Regions from separate parts of the Homo sapiens genome. Here region 2 is linked to region 1. The links come from fine-mapping of genetic effects on gene expression. A gene starts in region 1. The other region holds a variant in brackets. All regions are shown on one strand. Distances are from middle to middle. Region 1 holds the start of WIF1 (Wnt inhibitory factor 1). Region 2 holds the start of LINC02231 (long intergenic non-protein coding RNA 2231).

Evidence for each region. PIP is the estimated chance that this variant, and not a neighbour inherited with it, causes the effect.
Region 2: its variant is fine-mapped to the expression of WIF1 in nasal epithelium (TOPMed, PIP above 0.99).

Annotation. Positions count from the first base shown.
Region 1 is chr12:65,118,380-65,123,760 of GRCh38, forward strand. It overlaps WIF1 (Wnt inhibitory factor 1), which reads right to left and starts at 2,926. Exons shown (of 10, transcript NM_007191.5): 1 at 2,665-2,926; 2 at 2,038-2,177. The coding sequence starts at 2,812. RefSeq lists a silencer at 3,087-3,246.
Region 2 is chr12:64,990,438-64,995,818 of GRCh38, forward strand. LINC02231 (long intergenic non-protein coding RNA 2231) reads right to left here and starts at 1,854. Exons shown (of 4, transcript NR_146276.1): 1 at 1,840-1,854. It overlaps LOC107984522 (a long non-coding RNA gene), which reads left to right. Exons shown (of 2, transcript XR_001749177.2): 2 at 1-209. RefSeq lists an enhancer at 2,191-2,717. The variant G/A (reference allele first, on the strand shown) is at 2,575.

The DNA of each region.
Region 1 (5,381 bases):
TAGCCATACTTAAATAATATTAAACATAAAAAAATAATATTTTAAAGCATCTTGCTGCTTGGTATTGTGTAGATTCTTCCCCCTCACCACCCTTTCCCCAGAAAGCAGATTTTATGTAGTTAGTTGTGGTAACCTATTCAAAGCCGAATGAGTAGAGAGAGAAAGGTAGCTTAATTGAGGTGCTAACATTGTCCTGCATCATTAGATCATCCACATAGGTGAGCAACACTTAAGCAGGAGAAAAAAATATTACAAACTTCCTCTTCATGCCAGTTCCACTCTCCTCCCTAATTCCCTGCAGGACATATTCCTGAGATTGTATGACATGTCAGTCCATTTTGTACTCACCAGTATGCCAATATTTGCAAACATGCATTATACTGTTAAGCAATAGGATAAAAGCAACATGGAATTTAAGCCTTTGCTTCAAATTCTATTCTTCAACAGACAAACATAAGTGAGAGAGAAAGAGATAGAGAGAGGAGGGAGGGAGAGGGGGAGAGAGAGAGAGTGCGCACGAGAGAGCTATTGGCACTTTCTGCTTTTCCTACAGTTAACCAGTTACCAAACCCTTTCAGATGGAAGGGTGCAGTTCAAACTGCCTTTTATTGATTCTTACGAACCCATAAAGGTATAGGTTAAAAAATGTCTTTTCAAAAATATAGAATTAATTGGCCACTTAGTTAATGACCATCTGATGAGCGGTCAGCCATAAGTAAACAGATTCAGCTGAAAAGGAGAAAATGAAAGGCCATTCGTTGGTTTATTACTGATTTCACAATATTCCCAACTTAATTGTTTATGAAGTATCTATGAAGAGGGACTTGTAGGGAGAAAAGGAATAATCTCCCTATAGAGCAATGGAAACCTCGATGAACCTATCTGCAAAATGGGGGTATTAACAATAGATGACTTTCCTGTTATAAACCTCAGTGAATCCAAAACCTCAATTTTTTTTAACCACATAGCAATGGAAGTGTTGAAGGTTCTAGATTTGATCTATTTCAGAAGAAGAAGAAAAAGAGAACAGACTTGAAGGGAAAAAGACAGCTAAAAAGGTCATGTCTATACCACAACAGGTAATTAGAGGGAAACAAAGTGGTTTCTCAATTCAAAATAGTTATTTTTTATAAAGTGTTTTCGGTATCACATTCTTCTTGAAAATAATCATTTAAGGAACTTTAGAATAAAAGACCGAAAAATGTGGTTTTAATTATAATTATAATGATTTTCATAGTAGACACATTCTACCAACTAATAAGCTGAAGAATGCATTGCTTACCATTTGTCCTCTAGAGTAAATTCTCCAATTGTACAAAAGAAATTAAATTTACATAAGCATTTTATTCTTTCTTTCTAAAATTAGAAGCCATAAAAATGTACAAAAGGTAACATATAAAAGATGCTAATGTGCTAAGGAATAAAAGGAATGCTTCTTCATAAAAAATAGATTCCAGTTTTCTTTTCCATATGAAAGCATTTAAAATGGTAACTTGAAAACATAGGCTGCAATATTTTATAACGTTCTTACATGACACCTTTTGGGTCTAACTTCTACCAGAAATATGCAACATTCACGTTCCAGTGAATAACATTCAACATACTGACTTTTTAAAAGTGCACAATGTCAAAAATACTTACAAACTTTAAAATTTGTTGTAAAGTATGAAGAATGTCACAAGTGATTAGAAACTACTATGCAAAAAGAGTCCTTTAAGTATGTTAAATTTTAATGTCAATGATCACAGAAACACAGTGATGTTGGTATTGGAGGTCTTTATATTTCCAGCAGCCTCAGGACACTGAGTCTTATCAAAATAATGGGCTTAGGCACAAGGCTTGTTCTTTTCTTTTGAAGATCATTAATTGATATGGCAACTTGAAATAAATGGAAATTAATTCTTTATTTGCTTTGGCAATCAGATGAGAAATTTCTCTTAATAACTGTAAAATGTACCAGGCTACACACTATACAGTACTATTTCCACCTGCCATAAGGCAGTGGAAATATTAAAGGGTAATTTTCTCAGAACTTACCTGCCCTGCAGCTTGCCAGGTAAAATTCATGGAATGGATATTGACAGGAATAGCTGGCATTCTCTGTTGTGCTTTTCTGAAATCATGTGTAAAAGGTGCCATTTTCCCCTCTGAAACAATCAGGATATCTTCTTCAAATCCTGGTTTTTAAAATAATAAAACGATCAAACCAGGTAGACTTGAAATCATCTAAATCAGAAGTTTCAAGCAAAAAGAAAACCAAAGAATTAGTGTGGGTCATTTCTGTTCACAAGCATCTGCCTTCAGTACCATCAACGCTACTAAGATTAATTTTTCTCTGTGGATGATGAGAATGATGCCAACAGACCCATGCTTTCAGGGAAAAGGGATGGACATGGAGTTAACCGACGCAAAAAAATGCCGGGTGCACCTAAAAACGCAGGGCTATAAAAATTAACAACAGCATGATCAGAACACTAGATCAGCTTTGGTTTCTTAAAAGAGAAGTTTATAAGCTTTCAGATGGAAAATATCTAATTAAAAGAGGGGAACACTCTTTTGTGGAAATTAAGTTTTAAAACACAAGAAACGCAGGTATCCCTCTTTCTTGAAGAGTGGAGAGAGGAGGACATAGGCAGGGGAAGGCGCTGGAGGCGGGGGCCTTACCTATGAGTACTCTTGCCTGGTGAGCATCGATCCATAGGTACAGGCTCTCCTCCTGCGGCGGCCCGGCCTCCGCCCGCAGTGCCAGCAGGCACAGGAGGATGCTCCAGAGCCAGAGCGCGGCGGCAGGGAAGGCGCTCCTCCGGGCCATGCTGCTCAGGACCTCCTCGCTGCCGGGAAAACTCCTCGTGCCGCACCTACGCAACCTGGCGCCGTCAGATACTCTGCTGCGCTGCAGCTCCCTCAGCCAGGGCTGTTCCCGTTTAGACGGCTGGGCGCGTCGCCTCCCGGCCTGGGTGCCAAGGAGCCTGCGAGAGCAGGAGGAGGGGGCAGGCAGGACGCGGGAGGAGGAGGGGGGGACCAGCGGGCGCGAGTCGCGCAAGAAGATGGGGCGCGGGCGGGAGTGGGGGCGGCAGAGACGTAAGACTGGCAAAGCTGGCGAGGCCAGCAGTCAGCGGGGCAAATAGAGCGAGAACAGAAGAGCGGGAAGGGCTGGCGCGAGCGAGGTGCGAGCGAGGAGTGGGGCCCGCGAGGCCTGGGCGGCCGCCACTTGGGGGCGCTGTGGGGCCCCCCCGGGGGCGGGGCCGCGAGGGACCCCCGAGGCTGCATTCACAGTGCGGTGCGCCCAGTGGAGCGCCCGCGAAGTGGGCGTGTAGGGCTGGCGGACCCGGAGAAGGGCACTCAGAGACCCCTGGGACATCACTCGCCACCTCCTCGGGCCAAGGGAGGCTTCGGGGGAGGGAAATGGGGAGAGCAGACAACGCTGGGCTTGACTGAGTGCTGATGATGGTGATGGTGATGGTGATGATGATGATGATGATGATGATGAGGTGATGACTCCTGTTCCTCCTCCGGCGCTCACTGAAGGCGCAAATTGCCCTTCGTCTCCCTTTCAGCCAGTAGGATTCCTCTCTCCGCCAACCCTATGCGCTCCGTTCTGCGATAGGCTGGCACTTTGCGCGCTCCCAAGCAGTTAAAACTCGAGGCTCGACTGTCCGATGGTGCCGATGGCAGGCGCTGGCCTTGGCTCGAGGCGCAGGGCGTCCAGCTGGTACTTGCCCGACACCCAGCATTTGGGGATTCCCGTCTGTCTCCCTGATAACCCGGCAGTGCCCGGAAGAGTGCCCTGGGCCCTGGACGATAGCTGTACCTGACCCTCCGGGGTAGGGCTCCTCTAACATCGTGGATATCTTCACGTTTGCTGATATTTTTTAAAAGTTGCTGAATTCGGCCGGGCGCGATGGCTCACGCCTGTAATCCCTGCACTTTGGGAGGCCAAGGCGGGCGGATCACCTGAGGTCAGGAGTTCGAGACCAGCTTGGCCAGCGTGGTGAAACCCCGTCTCTACTAAAAATGCAAAAATTAGCTGGGCATGGTGGCGGGGGCCTGTAGTCCTAGCTACCCGGGAGGCTGAGGCAGGAGAATCACTTGAACCGGGAGGCGGAGGTTGCATTAAGCCAAGATCGTGGCACTGCACTCCAGCCTGGGCGATAGAGCGAGACTCCGTCTCAAAAAATATATAAATAAATAAATAAAATAATTTTTTAAAAGTTGCCGAATTCACAGGTGCGTGGGGGCAAAACCAAGGCTCTGGCCTCGTCTGTGAGAAGCATGCTTGGCCGGCAGTGGGCTGCAGCATAACCTATCCACCTGGCCCAGCAGAAAGAACTGATTTTTGCCTCCTGCCTAATTCCTCGGATGCACAAAGAAAACGGAAGCAAAAGGGTTTTGTTTTGTTTTGTTTTTAATTAAAAAACTTAGCCTTCGGACTCATAAAAGGTTCATTTACTTGTGTTTGTTCTTTAGTACCCGAAGCTGTGACAAATGCCTCAAGGATCAAATGTCTGGGGCTGGGCGTGGTGTTTCAATCAGTCCTTTATAGAGTAGCAGATGCCTCAAGAGGGAAAAACAAACAGAAACAACAGAAGAGATGGTGGACATGTGCAGGCATCAAGTTAAATCAGTGTTAGGTTCTGAGAATATAGATTTCCAATGAGGAAATATTTGCAGCTATACAACCAACCAATAGAAAAAAAAAAAAGGAAAAAAGGAATTAGACAAGAAGTCTATGACTGATTTGAACTTGCAGTGTCTTAATTTTTAAAGTACTTTTATTTTAAGTGCTTACTTAATCCTCACAACTCTTAAGTAGGTACTACTATTATTCTTATTTTACTGACGAGGAAAGAGGGCTCAAAAAGTCCAGTAAGTTGACTGTGGATATCCAGCTGGTAAATGAGAGTAAGGGTTCAAATCCCAGACACTCTGATTTCAAAGCCCATTCTCTTAGTAACTTATACCTCATACTGATAAATAAATCATAATTAAGTCTATTTGCATCCAAAGCTTCACAGTGATTCTTCCTTTACAATAAAAATATTTACCTGTTTCCCAACATTGCATTATTTTTTATTTCTATGAATATTCATGTATATAATGTATGAACATTAGGCTACTTTTAAAACACTTTAATGTTATAATGCCAGTGTCACCCAGGTAAAGATAATAATTTCACAGCACAATAGGCATTTTCTTTAACTCGGAGCGAGTGGTTTTAACATTTTTTTCTAGTTCTGCGCAAACCTCTATGGCTCTTGGTGCAAGGACGCCCTCTACAGGTTTTCCTAATCAAATACTAATTGAGAAATATTCATAAAATTTATTTTTTGGTGCAAGAAAAAGAGGAACTAAATTCTCTCCTAACTCGGTTTCCTCTGAGT
Region 2 (5,381 bases), 130 kb before region 1:
TGTCCTGTTTTGTTCCGATCTAATTACCAGTGCATGCAACCCCCAGTCATGTACCCCTGGCTTGCTCAATCGATCACAACCCTCTCAAGTGGACCCCCTTAGAGTTGTGAGCCCTTAAAAGGGGCAGGAATTGCTCACTCAGGGAGCTCAGCTCTTGAGACAGGAGTCTTGCCAATGCTCCCGGCCGAATAAACTGCTTCCTTCTTTAACTCGGTGTCTGAGGGGTTTTGTCTGCATCTTGTCCTGCTACACCTATATTGCCTGAACTTTGATTTGGGTCAAATTGATTTGGTTGGCAGAGGCTCCTGTTAGAGAGTACACCTCAGGCTTTTGGAATTTTTGGTGTTGTCCTTCTGATAGTCATCATAGTAGCTCCCCTGGTGTACCATATCCTCTCAAGTCTTAAATATTTGTATGCAGCCATCCACTGAGTGTTGAGTGGTCTCACTTTGACTTGATCATCAAGAACATAAAGAATTATTCAACTGGTGTGATGTCATGACTTGTGAATTTCATGCTGAGACCAAATAAGTTTGTTTATGATGGTGACAGAGAGTGGTATCAATGCCCCAGGTTTTGAGAGGTGGCATTGTTAAACTAAATTTGGGGGGATTGTTAAACTAAATTTGACCTGAGAATGCCTCCATACCTGAGTCCTTACTAATGAAATGCAATGTAACTTAGTACTCACACTAACTGAAAACCTGGCTTAGGCATATACTTTTGTCACAAATGAGTCACAGCCAATCACAGCAGCTGAGCTTCAGTCAGTCACAGGCAGCCAACTCAAAACACCATGTTCACATAAAGCAAATGCTGAATAAGGCAAACACCAGCTGTAATCAATGGAGCTCTGTACCTCACTTCCATCTTCTGTTCATAAATGCTATCTGACCACATTGCAGGCCAAAGTTTTTCTGAACTTGTTCTAGTTTTGAGGGCTGCCCAATTCGTGAATTGTTCTTTGTTCAATTAGACCCTGTTAAATTTAATTTGTCTGAAGTTTTCCTTTTAGCAACTGAAGCATGCAGCAGGTCTGACATCATTAGGCAATTGCAATTCTCTTTCCTGCAGAGCTAAGACTCTGCCTCCTGCCTGATTCTCAAAGCAGAGCTCCAGGGAGCAGCAACACTAATTGTACAGGGCTGGCACACTAGAGAAAACCGATTTGCTACCCCAGCTTTAGGGCTTTTTCTAACTTCCCTCCAAAAGGAAATATACTAGTGCCCTGCTCACTCCCTGAGGTACTGTCTTCGCTAAGGTATGATGCTTGTTCATGGATTAATGTGTTTTCCCTCCAGGTATATGTTTCTATTTAAAATGCAGAGAGTGTTTTAATGTGGAGGAATGACCCTAATGATAGAAGTTTTAATAAGTCAAATGAGCGGAAAGGCAAGACAATATAACAAAAAGAGCACCAGTTTTGGCATAGCAGGCACTCAATAAATGTAAGTTCCACTTCTTTCCTTGTGCTGAGTGTCTCCTAATTACCTAGCACTATGGTAAATGCCCAAGAAACTCTAAGATATAAACTTTTGGTTTAAGAAGGCTTTATTTGTACTGATGAGATGATATGAGAAAATACTTTCTTTTTCTCTAAATACTATTACATTGTAGGCAGCAGACTGGCCAATACAATTAATTAAACTTTAGAAAGAAAAGATAAAGCCAGTCATCTGCTATGTAGTCTATGCAGTCCCAAAACAGCAGCTGAGTTTTTTTCACGGAACTCTTCTGGGTATTGGAAGGCAGACTAAATACTTTACTTGCTGCCCAGCAACACGAAGATGGAAAACACATCTTTTGATTAATTAAAAGCAAAAGGTTGGAACTACTTACCTTTCCATTCTTTAATTAACAAAGCCCACAGGCCACATGAGGAAGTAATAACACTCATTATGTTGTGATGAAGGACTGTGATGATGAGTTAAGTCAGATGGGACTCCAGGCACGATTCCCTTCAAGGCTTCCCCAAGACGTGCCCCGAATGTAGACAGATCCTTACTTGTTGAAGAACTGTATCTCACCAGTGCTGGCATATGCTTCTTCAGAGAGTGCATTCCCTTTTGCAAGGGAAAGAAAAGTCCTTAAAACAAAAGGTTATATTTTAATTAAGCCTAGGCATCCTTTCTGCAATTTCCTTTGTTGAAAGAATACCTCCTTTGATTTGTATCTGTTGGTGTTAGTCTTTGGAATAAAAAGAGATTGATCCCTTCCAGGCAGAACTGTCCCAACTGAATGATCAAAAGCCTTGCTAGCTGACATACAAACCAACAAATTATTTTCTTTTTCTCCCTTAAATCTCCCAGGAAGCACCTTTTGAAAGATAGTCTTCATTCCCCAGGCTTTGCTCACCATCCTTCATGCCAGTGGGTGGTCTCAAGGAATTTGAGGAAATGGCAAACACTCATTCTACCTGCAGGTGGAAGCCTGACCTCCTGCCTTTCAACTTCCTCCAGAATCCTTGGAGGGTTTTTTCTTTTCTTGTCACCAAGGCACCGCTGAAATCTGTTAGTCAAATAGCTTTCTACCCATGAGGAAAGTGAGCTTTGATATGTATTTGCTTCTCATTCA[G/A]CTATAGCAGCACCAGTTAAGATGCTGCCACCACATGAATGTAAACGAAAAATAAAACAGCAGGCTCAGTTTTCATTCTAAAGTCCACTCTCTGATGGGAATAAGAAATAACTCAATAGCATTAGTATGGAACATTGGGTGTCAGGATTTTTGCCTTCATTTCCCATCTTTTTTTTGGAAATTAAACTCAGTACCTCTATTATCTTTAAGAATCAGGGATAGTGATGATATTTTTCCCCCAAGAAAGAAAATAAGGGCCTATAAAAATGCTCTTTTTAATGCTCTCAAGGGGAAATGCTGAATTGAGAAGCAATTGGGTTTTCTAGAAGTCCAACAAACGTACTTTTTAAAGTGGTTCTCTGATGGAATACCTATAGAAAAACCTTGCTTCTTCATGTGAAGGTTTGCATTCACCAAGTCTGATTGTGTAATAGAGGTTACCCTTTTTAAATTAAATGAATTCTAAACAAAGTTTTACTTACATTTCCATTTTTGCTTTTTAAGAATGGAGTGATTGAGTCTTTTTAGGAAATGTATACACTTTGTGGCTAACTTTGCATGCCACATTGCAGCATGCTGTAAGTTTTATAGCTCTTGAAATACCATGTTAGCAGTAGGAATGCTGATGCTTCTATGATTACAGTGGTCCAACTGCAATGCTATAATCTCTGTCACTGAAAAATCTCATGCTGCTAAAACCTTGAAGACGATCTGAATTGTAGATGGTTTTAAAACTAGCTGTAGGCAATCCCATTACTGGGCATATACCCAAAGGAATATAAATCATTCTATTATAGAGATACATGCACACATATGTTCATTGCAGCATTATTCACAATAGCAAAGACATGGAATCAACCCAAATGCCCATCAATGATAGACTGGATAAAGAAAATGGGGTACATATACACCATGGAATACTAAGCAGGCATAAAAGGAATGAGATCATGTTGTTTGCAGGGACATGGATGGAGCTGGAAGCCACTATCCTCAGCAAACTCACAAAGGAACAGAAAACCAAATACTATGTGTTGTCATTTATAAGTGGGAGCTGAACAATGAGAACACATGGACACATGGGGGAAACAACATACACTGGGGCCTGTCAGGGGAGGGGTGTGTGGGGAGGGAAAGCCTTGAGAAGAATAGCTAATACATATTGGGCTTAATACCTGGGTGATGGTAAGGGAGAAAACCACCCCTCATATTGTCTTATGCCCAGTTTCTGCCTCCAAAGAAATAAGAAGTAAAAACTAAAAGGCAGAAATGGAATCCACAGGCAGACAGCCCAGCACTGCGCCCTGGGCCTGGTAGTCAAAAATCAACCCCTGACCTAACTGCTTGTGTTATCTATAGATTTCAGACATTGTATGGAAAAGCATCATGAAAATCCCTGTCCTGTTCTGTTCCTTTCTGATTACTGGTGCATACAGCCCCCAGTCACGTACTCCCTGCTTGCTCAATCGATCACGACCCTCTCATGCAGACCCTCTTAGAGTTGTAAGCCCTTAAAAGGGACAGGAATTGCTCACTCAGGGAGCTCGGTTTTTGAGACGTGAGTCCACCGATTCTCCCAGCTGAATAAAGCCCTTCCTTCTTTAACTCGGTGTCTGAGGGGTTTTGTCTGCGGCTCATCCTGCTACAATGGGATGATCTGTGCAGTGAATTGCTGTGGCACACATTTACCTATGTAACAAACCTGCATATCCTGCCTATGTGCCCTGGAACTGAAAATAAAAGTCGATTAAAAAAAAAAAACTAGCTATAGGAAACCATCCCAAATTCAATGGTGTCAATGCCTGTTTTCCTCAACTTGGTTTAGCTGCAGGTATGGAAACCTTCCAGATATACTTTCTGCTTCTTTTAGATCTTGAGACACTCTGGTAGGATGTGAGGAGCACTATCTCAGGCAAGAGGCAGGTGGGATCTGAAACTTGAAATCCCTCTTTAAATCTAGTATCTTTCGTGCGTAATGTGAGCCTGGGCTGACGCGCCCCAATACAAGTCACCACTAAGTCTTTCCTGGTTTATTGGTATTACCTTCTATTAAATCTTCCCAAATTTACTCCGACACTCCTCCAGTTCATTTTCACACAACATGCAGAGTGATCTTTCCAAAATGGCAACCTGATTATGTCTTCTTGTGAGAAGCATATGCCAAGACAGGATTAGATATGCAAGGAATTTGGTGGGGAGGGAGGAGAGGGAGCTGAAGGAGATGAGGGAAGACTTTACTCAGAGATGCTGGTCGGACCCCTGTGAGGGAGAGAGGGAAGGAAGGAAGGAAGATTGGATAGGAAGAGTCTCAAGCTGCAGTGTAGTTCTAAAAATGTTTCATGTTCCTAATTCTAGTTTCATCTGAAATCTCTCCATCAGCTTCCGAGCTCCAGCTTTGTTGGTGATCTTTCAATTCTTGGAACTCTCCACACTCCATCTGACCCTAGGGTCTTTTCACGTCTTTTTTTTTTTTTTTTTTTTCTGAGATGGAGCCTTGCTCTGTCACCTAGGCTGGAGTGCAGTGGCACAATCTTGGCTCACTGCTACCTCCACCTCCTGGGTTTGAGCGATTCTCCTGCCTCTCAGTCTCTGAGTAGCTGGGATTACAGGCATGTGCCACCACACCTGGCTAATTTTTGTATTTTTAGTAGAGATGGGGTTTCACCATGTTGGCCAGGCTGGTCTTGAACTCCTGACCTCAGATGATCTGTGCTCCTCAGCCTCCCAAAGTGCTGGGATTACAGGCATGAGCCATCTTATTTTATTTGACTGGAATACTTTCCTCTTCAACTCTCAAAGACAAATAACAA